Linked DNA regions of Homo sapiens: region 2 is linked to region 1. The links come from fine-mapping of genetic effects on gene expression. A gene starts in region 1. The other region holds a variant in brackets. All regions are shown on one strand. Distances are between the middles of the regions.

Region 1 (5,366 bases):
GTGAAGCCTTCTTGATTACTCCACACTGCAAGTTTCTCCCTCCTCTGGGTTCAGTGACTGATAGCATCACTGGTACTTCCTGCGTGCCACGCATCACTGTCACCTCTTGTGAAGATAATGTCCTCCCAACTAGACCGCAAACTCCTACAGAGCCAGGTCACAGTGAAGACATCTTAATGTTCCTAGATGTGGCACACGCCTAGCACACAGCACTTAATTATTGAGATTATATTGGATTTTAGAAAAGTTTTTGTTTGTTTCTTGTTTTCAGAGGCACAGGCCATGTATCACCTCTTTCTCAGAAATCCCCTAATCGCTGACCCACATAGCACACAGGCATTGGTGCTCACCTTCCAGGGGAGCCCTCAGCCTTAGCTCCCCTATCCTAACTGGGCAACAGAAACAGCTCAAGGTCCAAGAAAGCATTAAAGAGACTTCAGGCAAGTGGCAAAATGACAGGAGTGAGAGAGCTGGGTGTGCTGTGGGGTCCAGGCCTCGCCTCTAACACAGAGCCCCGAGGGTGGCTGAGGCCTCTTGCAGTCTTCAGCACCACCGTGGAGGGAGAGCGCTGGGCTGCAGCACAGGCGTCGGTCTGGCTGGTTACCGGATCCTTCCACTGCAAGGATCCACAGTGTGAGGAAGCTTCCTTTGTGCTGTGACCCGCACTCACCTGAACACATCATTCCAATACTCCTTTACGTAGGACACTTGATGGAAAGGGATGTCTAAGATCTGGCAAACTCTGTAAGCATCTTCACAGTCTTTGTCGGCAGTACAGACCCCATGTTCATCCAGTGAGTCCCAGTTCTTCATAAACACCCCTGTCACCTGGTAACCTGCGGGCGGGAAGGTCAATTAAAGAGAATACATAAATCAACCTTCGGTAAAACGGCAGTGATTTCTGAGCTCTGAGAAGTTCCCCACACGCTGTGCTCCTGTGCCTCTGTGCCTGGCCTGCCGGGCAGTCCCTGCTTTGCCATGTGGCTTCAGGGATCCGGTTTCCATCTTGGTGCCTGAGTCCCCAAGATTAACGAGGTGGTATTTTCTCATCTTTGTGTCCCCATCTATGTATCAGCACAATACCTAGCAGGAGGGGATCAGCCAGTGTGTGTGGAATACACGAAGGAATAGTCGAAACTCAACAAAATTTTTCAAAGCACCATTCAGTTATCAAAAAAGGAAACTCTTTTCAAAAGTTATTTCTAGTTACTATCTAAGACTTAGATTCTAAGTGATCAGATATAAAGATAATTAAAATTTTCGATATTTTGTAAGAGCTGTACCACCTAGTTTATGACCTATTTTCTACCTTTTCGATTGTAACAAAATATTCACCCAAATATTGGAAAGGCCAACTTTAGCCCTACACCACCTTAGCAAACTACACAGGTGCAGACCCTGTATGAGAAAGCTGGTTCGTTTAGGTAGGCTGAATGTAATGAAAGACAGGGCAAATGACTGCTGAAGAAGGCTTCATATAGTACCCAAAACAACAGAAATTTGATGACAAAGCTTTGTCAAAACTACACCACCACACGCGAAAGACCACCCCTATCCCAGATCAACCAGACTAATGTCTACCTAACAGTCTAAAGCCCCTGGTATAGCATCTTCCATAATCAGGGCTAAACGTGCTCCAGGCTCCTCTCCTTCCATCTCCATCTGGCCAGAACCAGCCCACACTTGCAGGCCTCTGTGATTCTGCTTGCACTGCTGACTGTGCCGGGAGGGCCGCCTCCACCTCCAAGTCTCTGCTTAGTGACATCCTACTCTTCTTTCGACTCAGCTGAGCACCTCCATCTCTAGGATGCTTTCCTCCACTCTCCCTTCCTCACAACTATTTCTGCTTATGGTCCGCCTACCCTTCTCTTTGGCACTTACTGTACCTACCATAATAGCTATGGTTATTAACAATATAAACTAATAGCCACTACTGTTTTCTGCGTACCTCGTATGTGCTGAGCACGTACTCATCAGTATGTACTATGTCATCTAATCCCTCCAGTCACCCCGTGAGGCAGGTGTTAGCCGAATTTTACAGGGGACGGCTTAATTCACTTGCCCAAGGTCAGGAGCCAAAGATGGCGCAAAGCAGAGCTCCACAAACGTGACTCTGTGAATGAGGCCTCCCGCGGGGAGCCACACAGGTGAAGTTAAACAAGTGCTCATTTCAGCGCCGGGCCCGAGGAATGCTAAGCACCCGTGGGGCTCCGTTTAGATGCCGGAAGAAATGCAAATGCTCCTGGAGAAAACTTTGTCCTCCAGCGAGCGGAGAACACAGGAGACGCTGAACAAGCAGACCCGCCGCGCGGCAGTTGTCCAGTCTGCTGAGTGGGGAGGACAAGGACCTCCCACCGGGCGGCCACAGCGTGTGCAGAGGTCAGGCCCCCGGCCCGGCGATCCCAGCTCCCCTCACCAGTGTCCACGGTCTCACAGGTGAATGTGGACGCCGCAGATCCGTGAGAAACCCTTCCCTCCCCACCCCACCCCGGCCCGCCGGCTTCTCACTGTGGGTGGGCGCGCGTGGGTGGAGAGGGGCGCGGAACTGCTCCCAGGTAGTCGGAGCTGCAGTCGCGCACACCTCCGACTACACAGGTGGAGGGCGAGGAGCCTCCGAACCAAAGTCAGAGGACGGGGTATCCTCCTGCCGACCCGCGCGCAACCAGCGGCCCAGGGAGGGAGGAGACGTGCACAACGCCACGACGGACGGGGACAGGTTTCCGGGGACACATTCGCTCGGCGGGGGGCGGGAGCCTCGGACGCCTCACCTCTCCGCCTCAGCAGCAGCGCGGCCACGGCGCTGTCCACGCCGCCGGACAGGGCGCACACGACGTGCCGCAAGGCCTGCATCCGCCAGTCGCCCAACTTCGCCAGCTGCAGCTACCGCCGCTTCCGCGCCTTGCCGGAAGTCCCGCCCCGGCCGTAGGGTCCGCGCTAGTGGCCCGGCCGGAAGCTGCGGCAGCTTACCCGCGTTCCGTCCGGCCTTCCCCTGTCCCGCGGCGGGTTCCCCTGTCTCCGGCCTGCGCTCACCCCTGAGGCTCCACCGACCCGCGGGGCGCCGAGACTCTGTCGGGCCGCGAGGGGCTGGCTTTTTTTTTGAGCCGCCGCCTTGCCCTCCCCACCCGCGCCCCGGCCTCACTGCTCTTCTTCTGCGCTGTAAACCAAAAATAAAATTCTAAGCCCCCCAGCCAGCCATTGGAGGCCTCCTCTCGGCCAAGGGCGTCCTAGAGGGAACCTGAACCGCGAGTTCGGGCTCTGATGGGAAAGGCCGGGTGGGACCCGCCTCACTAGACCCTCCTCCTCCCTTTGGAATTCGGACCAGCATTAACGTCAAAACAGACTTAAGACTGTCTAGGCGGACTCTCCGTAGCAATAGGATACCGACATGACAGATGGCAGGCCCTGAAAGATATCGAAGTATTTTACAGTATTTTAATTTAATTTAATTTTTAATTAATTAAATTTTTTTGAGATGGAGTTTTGCTCTGTCGCAGGCTGGAGTGTAGTGGGCGCGACCTCGGCTCACTGCAACCTTCACCTCCAAGATTCAAGCGATTCTCCTGCCTCAGCCTCCCTAGTAGCTGCGATTACAGGCGCCCGCCACCAAGCCCAGCTAATTTTTGTATTTTTAGTAGAGACGGGGTTTCACCGTATTTGCCAGGCTGGTCTCTCACTCCTGACCTCAAGGGATCCGCCCACCTCAGCCTCCCAAAGTGGCGGGATTACAGGTGTGAGTCACTGCCCCCGGCCCAGAAAATCTTTGAATCCACCTATGACCTGGAAGCCCCACCCCACCTTCGAGTTGTCCCACCTTTCCGGAACCAATGTTACATCTTACATGTATTGATTTATGGCTTATGTCTCCCTAAAACGTACGAAACCAAAAGCTGTAGCACCACCAGTTTGAGCACGTGTTCTCAGGATCTCCTGGGACTATGACATGAATAAATATCTTCAAATCTTTTACAGTTTGACTCCAAGCATACTCAGCACTCAATCCTTAATGTCTGTGAGGTGTGTTGGACAGGGGTTTTGTGTTCTGTCCACTCCTACTCCATGCCCAGAAAAGCCCCTGGCCCAGGGCAGGTGCTTCATAACCTCGCTGAATAAAGGAAGGAGGAGAGAATGGAGGTCATCCCCCAGGGGTGATATTCAAGCTGAGTTCTTCTCTACGAGTTAGCATCTAGACAAGGTCTACCTAAAGCACAGGGAGACTCTGAACGAAAAAGATGTTCATTTGTGAATAGGGCATTGCAATGGGAATATGCATGCCACAATAAGCTATGTGGGTATTCAGGGAAGTAAAGGAAGACAAAGGTTTTTATTTTATTTATTTATTTTTTTGAGACAGTCTCACTTGGTCACTAGGCTGGAGTGCAGTGGCGTGATCTTAGCTCACTGCAACCTCCGCCTCCCGGGTTTAAGCGATTCTCCTGCCTCAGCCTCCGGAGTAGCTGGGATTACAGGCACATGCCACCACACCCAGCTAATTTTTGTATTTTTAGTAGAGACGGCATTTCACCATGTTGGCCAGGATGGTCTTGATCTCCTGACCTTGTGATCCGCCCGCCTCGGCCTCCCAAAGTGCTGGGATTACACGCGTGAGCCACAGTGCCCGGCCTAGGAAGACAAAGGTTTTTAAAGGGAAAATGAGGATCACATCATTGTTTTGAGATAATTCTTTGGCTACAAAGATCAATAACAAGGGTGACAGCACTCCAGGGTTGGACAAGCAGTTGCTGGGCAGATGTCCTTGCAACAGAAGTTTTTTGTTTTTTTTTTTTTTTTGAGGAAGGTTACGATAGCCTTTGTGTAAAGTTGTGGTTTTTGCAGTCTTTTGTGATAGTTGTTATTATTAGGCACATGTGCATGAGAACCCTCCCTTGTGGTATGAACCCAAAGTACCTGAGACAGGTTTCAATTTAGAAAGTTTATTTTGCCAAGGTTAAGGACATGCCAGTGACACAGCCTCAGGATGATGTCCTGAGGATATGTGCCCAAGGTGGTCGAGGCACAGCTTGCTTTGATACATATTAGGGAGACACAGGACATCAATTAATACGTGTAAGATGTACACTGGTTCTGTCTGGAAAGGCGCAACAACTGGGGGTGGTGGGCAGCTCGCAGGTCATAGGTAGATAAGAGATAAACTGTTGCATTCCTTTGGGTCTTTGATCAGCCTTTCACTGAATACACAATCTCCATGTGAGAGGCAGGTAGAGGAACAGTCACTGATGCCTTAGTCTGGCTCAGTGAATCTGCATTTTCACATAAACAATAGGGCAGAGGAAGCAATCAGACATGCATTTGTCTCAGGTGAGCAGAGGACTGATGGTGAGTTGTCCATTGTCTGGCATCTGTGAAGA
Region 2 (5,366 bases), 45 kb after region 1:
GCTCTGAGCTCAATCCTTGCACCTCAGAAGTGCATTTATGATTAAAATCATGCTCGACATGAAGCCCTGTTATGATGTGCAGTTTAAAAAGAGAAACGGGTCCAAATCAGCACCAACAGAGCCCCCCAGGGGGCTCCAAGACTCGCCCCAGAGACAGCAGAAGGACCCCATGTGCGCGCTGATCTGTAAGAAGGGTGGTGGATGCAGCAGCAGGGGGCTGCGTCCAAAGGCAGCAGGTGGGGGCCTCTCATAGTGTGACCCTGGGCAGGCCACTCCCCTACCCCGGTACCCTCACCTGAAAAATGGGACAGCAACACAATGAGACAACAGAGACTGTCTAGAATATAAAGAAAAGAATGAAAAGGTCCATCCCAAGGGCAGCCTGGTGGGGACGGGGACAGGCAGTGGGGGGAGGCTGCCTCTGGAAGACCTGTCCCAGCAGAATCAGCCCCCACCTCTGCCCTGCCTTCCAACCTTTGAACCACCAGGCAGTAGACACATTCCCCTGGGAAACAGAATTTGCAAGGCAGGTGGAAAGAGCAGCACTCACACTGGCTGTGACTGCTGAAAAATGCTCATTGGCCCTTCTCGAGGACTGAAAGGAGATTCGGAATCACATTTAAAATTAACCCGTGACCCACTTCCTGTAAAACTGAAGATCACCCTCTAACAGCCCTAACAAACAGGCTCTGGCCGTCTCCTGACCCTAACCCGGTGGAGCAGCTGACTGGACGCAGTGACGCCACCACTGAGGTTCTGCAGGGTGGAGGCGGCCAGGCTGGCTCACTGCATGAGGTGGACGGTAGCTGCCTTGCGGATGAGCCGCTCGGTCAGGGGCGAGTTGGGCTTCAAGGCATCACGCTCCATCAGAAGGCTCCTGTGGAAACAGACACAGAGGTCCTGTTACAGAACCTTCTAGAGGGATGTGGGGCCTGGTGGTCCCTTGGTCCCAAGGCAGAACACAGGCAGGCTAGACTGCGGCACTGAGGGAACAGCAAGGGCCAAGGCCCAGGGGCAGGAGGCCTGGCCTCAGTTTGGGGAGAGGTGAGGATGGGAGGGCACAGACCTCCAGTGCAGGAAGCCACACCCGAGATGGGGCACAACAGGTGGCAGTGGGGAAAACCCAGGTTTGAAGAGAGAAGACCCAGGTACGGTTTGAGGTAAAGACCCTGCTGTGGACTGAATGTCTGTGTCCAGGCTAAATGTATATGTTGAAGCCCAAATGCCCAAGGTGATGGTATTAAGAACAGGGCCTCTTGGAGGTGATTAAGTCATGAGGGTGGGGCCCTTGTGAATGGGATTAGTGCCCTTATAAGAAGAGATAGGTGTGGTGGCTCACCCCTGTAATCCCTGCACGATGGAAGGATGAGGCAGGAAGATTCCTTGAGCCCAGGAGTTTGAGTTTACAGTGAACTGTGATCACACCACTGCATTCCAACCTGGATGACCGAGTGAGACCTTGCCTCTAAAAATATAAAAAAATTTAAAAAGAAAGAAGAAAGAAGAGACGTGAAAGAATTAGCACTCAAAGGAAAGGTCATGTGAGGACACAGCAAGAAAGTGGCTGTCCACAAGCCAGGAAGAGAGGCCTCAGCAGAAACTGAACCCAGCCAGGCCTTGTTCCTGGACATTCCAGCCTCCAGAACTGTGAGACAGTGCATGCCTACTGTGCAAGCCGCCCAGACTGTGGCACTTTTATTTTTTAATTTTTTGAGATAGAATCTCCCTCGGTCACTCAGGCTGGAGTGCAATGACGCGATCTCGGCTCACTGCAACCTCCACCTCCCAGGTTCAAGCGATTCTCCTGCCTCAGGCTCCCGACTAGCCGGGATTACAGGTACCCACCACCACGCCCGGCTAATTTTTTGTATTTTTAGTAGAGGCGGAGTTTCACCATATTAGCCAGGCTGGTCTTGAACTCCTGACCTCAGGTGATCCACCCGCCTTGGCCTCCGAAAGTGCTGGGATTACAGGCATGAGCCACCGTGCCCGGCCTGTCTGTGGCACTTTTAAAATAACAACCCAAACTGACTAAGACAGCCCCCAAACACCTGAAAACAGTGGTTCTAGAGGGCGTGGGTGGTGTGAAGGGGCTGGGGCCGGGAACTCATTGTGGGGGGCACCATGGCTGTGGGTGGAAGGTTTCCCACCTTGGGGGCTGGTGAGCTGTGCTGATGGCCCCATGGATGCTGCCTGGTAGCAGGACAGGACTTGGAGAGAAGGCCCCCTCCACGTCTCCTAATGCAGTCGGCTCCCTGTGCAGCCTGCTCTCCCCCTGCCCTCCCCCACTGGGCCCCGCAGAAGGCCACATCGGCACTGCCGCACTGCCCCACAGATGTCACCCCAGCTCCATCCTCAGCCCTCCTGTCCACACAGCCACTTTCCCCACCGCTGCTGCCAGAGGCACCAACTCCCACCCACACCACAGCCTGAGCTCCCCAGGGGGCTTGACCACCAAAGAAACACGCATGGTTTTGTCTACAGCCATGGAAGGGGAAAGCGGGGAGCATGCGTCCAAGACATTTTACAGTTCTAGGCGGTTCCAGTGCTGCCAGCCAGACCTGTTTCATGAGTACCACAGAACCTGTACAGCTCAGTTTGGGTAACCCTGCCTGGAGGGAGCTGCGCTGGTGCACCTGCGCCTAAACCACTGGGCTTGTCACCAGCCAAGGGCCTCCTGTGGACCCGGGCTGCCACCTGCTCTCACAGCACACCTTCCCCACCAGGCACCCCATGACTCCTCTATTCTTCCTTTCACTTATGTCTGAGGGTGGCAGGGACATGGGCAAGGAGAGGTGTCAAACTCGCCGCTCAGGCACACGGGCTACGCAGCTGCTGGCCAAGAGCTCAGCAGCCTAAGTGGAGGGAGGCAAGCTGGGCCATGGAAGCACCAAGGCTGCTGGCAATGGTGAGGGCTCTTTGGAGTTCCCCCAGCACTCTCATCTGCCAGCTATGCCACCCTCCTGACACTCGCCTGCCAGCCACACCACCCTCCTAACACTCACCCTCCAGCCACGCCACCCTAACACACCTTCCAGCCACGCCACCCTCCTAACACTCACCCTCCAGCCACGCCACCCTCCTAACACTCACCCTCCAGCCACACCACCCTCCTAACACCCTCCAGCCACGCTGCCCTAACACACTCACCCTCCAGCCATGCCACCCTAACACTCACCCTCCAGCCAC[G/A]CCACCCTCCTACCAGCCCCATGCCTGGCCTGGCTAAACCCACTGTGGTTTCGGGTCTGCCCTCAGCTGCTGCTCCCTCAGTGCGAGTTTACGTGTCTGTGGGACTGATTGCTCCCTGTCGCTCCCCCGACTACAGATGGGCTCCTGGTAGCCAGTGACTGGTGTGCCTGCTCACTGCTCCCTCTCGGTACCCAGCACAGGCAGGCAGGTGAAATGAGCTGAGGTCTAACTGAGCATTAGGTGTCGGCCAGGTGCAAAAAAGGAGAAAGGGTGTTCCAAGCGTGCAAAGGCCCAGGAGCCTGAAAGAGCAGGACGTGTTTACGTACCCAGGTAGCTTAGCAAGGCTAAAAGGGAGTGGGCTGGGAAGGGTGGGAGGTTGGGCCTGGGGTGGGGCTGGCTCCACTTGGTCACACTGAGCCTGCTAACAAAGGAGAACCAAATTCCCCACAGCCTCCCGACCTCACAGCCTCAGAAGCAGGAGCATCTCGGGCCAAGGGTGGTGGGGCTTCCAGGCACTCCTGAGGTCTGCAGGGAGAGCCTGTGAAGGTCGGGAGTGCTGGGCAGGGGCCAGGAGCTCACCGGGCTACGTTCTTATGGACGCTGGAGGTGCAGTTTAAGGCCGCGTGAATCAGCAGCTGGTTGAAGACGTCTCTCTGAAATGTCAATCGGGCATGTGAGTCTCCTGTACCTCAGGATGGGGGAGGCGAGCCCCCGCCCACCGCGGGCTGCCTGCTCTCCAGGGAGACAGTGGTGTTGATGCCACACCCTCAACGACGAACTTACACGGCGGGAGTGTGAGAGACACGTTCACACCCACATTGTTGGCACCAACACCATGGGAGAAACTTGGGGGCTGCGGGGCGCCCAGACTCCCTGGCCCAGGCCCTAGGCACCCCAGCTGGCGGCCATCGGCTCACCTGGGCATTGCTCCCACCGAGCTGGACGATCCGGTAGCGGATGGGCAGGAGCAGCTCCAGGACGCGGTCAGGGTTCCCGTCCTCAGCCTCCACCAGGGCCTGGCACAGGGGCAGCCCCACGTCTCGGGCCAGGAGGTGCTGGCAGTTCTCCCCTGGGGATCTGCGAACCCAAGACGGTGCCCTCAGCTGCCTGCCCATCACAGAACATCCGGGAAGGGCAGAGCCATTTCTTCCTCAGCGAGGTGTCCCTGGTCCAGTGCCTGACACATGCCACACTGATGAGGTGAGGTGACAGGCGGGGCAGCCCATCGAGGGGACAGGACAGGGTACTGAGCTCAGAGCTGGGTTGGAGTTCGCCCACTTCCAGCTACCTGGTCCCCCACCTTCCAGCCTCAGTTTGCTCATCTGTAAGCAGGCATAACAGTGCCAATCTAACAGAACCGTCAGGATTGCTGATAATACAGGCAAAGGCCTGGCACTGCAAGCCAAGGCAATCATCACCCCCGGAAGGGAATGGGCAGGGCAGCCCAGGTCCTCCAGGTCAGCCCTCACCAGCTCTTGCCAGGCATCGCCCTGATTTAGATGGGGAAACTGAGGTTCAGAGCACAGAAGCACCTCGTCCAGGACCTCAGGGCCTGTAAGCAGCAGGTGTCTCTGGCTTCAGGGCTTCACTGTGTCCTCTCCACGGGAGGCAGCCCTGTGACCCTGCGGATCTCATACCCACCCTGGGGATGGAGGCAGCTCTGTGTCTTGGGGCAACCAGTTGTACAGCTGTGGGTGTACACACCTTGGGGGTCTGCACCAGGGGATGCACATCTATAGGGGTGCACACCTGGGAGCTGCCTCCATGGGCATCCCCCCTGCTGCACTCACAGGCGGGGCAGGCACTGAACAGGTCTCAGCATGGCCCTAGCACCCCCTCACCCTCTCGGCAGGGTGAGGACCCCCACCCCGAGAAGGCCCCTCTGCATACTCGCTGGCGTCCCGCAGGGTGGTCAGCAGCTCCTGTGTGGTCTGGGGGTCGTGTGCACCCAGGGATGCCATCAGGAAGTGTGCGTCATTGAACAGCAGGATGTGGTCTCGGCTGTGCTTCCGGGCCACAGGCAGGACATCCTGCCACCGCTGGCCCACAGACACTCCTGAGGACATGGGGAGGAGACCCAGGGCCTGGAGTGAGGCTCTGGGGCATGTCCCGTGCAAGGGCCTCCCTCACGGCGCTTCCCTTGGAGGCCTTGATGACCCTGTCCCAGGTGAGAGGCC

Evidence for each region.
Region 2: its variant is fine-mapped to the expression of TRMU in blood mononuclear cells (TOPMed, PIP 0.98).

Annotation. Positions count from the first base shown.
Region 1 is chr22:46,333,249-46,338,614 of GRCh38, reverse strand. TRMU (tRNA mitochondrial 2-thiouridylase) reads right to left here and starts at 2,901. Exons shown (of 11, transcript NM_018006.5): 1 at 2,769-2,901; 2 at 671-836. The coding sequence starts at 2,850. RefSeq lists a silencer at 2,454-2,503 and enhancers at 2,312-2,811, 2,644-2,863.
Region 2 is chr22:46,288,302-46,293,667 of GRCh38, reverse strand. It overlaps TTC38 (tetratricopeptide repeat domain 38), which reads right to left. Exons shown (of 14, transcript NM_017931.4): 11 at 5,080-5,245; 12 at 4,107-4,266; 13 at 3,769-3,842; 14 at 1-877. The coding sequence ends at 784. Among named protein-coding and RNA genes, the nearest start is that of GTSE1-DT, 5.7 kb to the left of the region's middle. The variant G/A (reference allele first, on the strand shown) is at 3,190.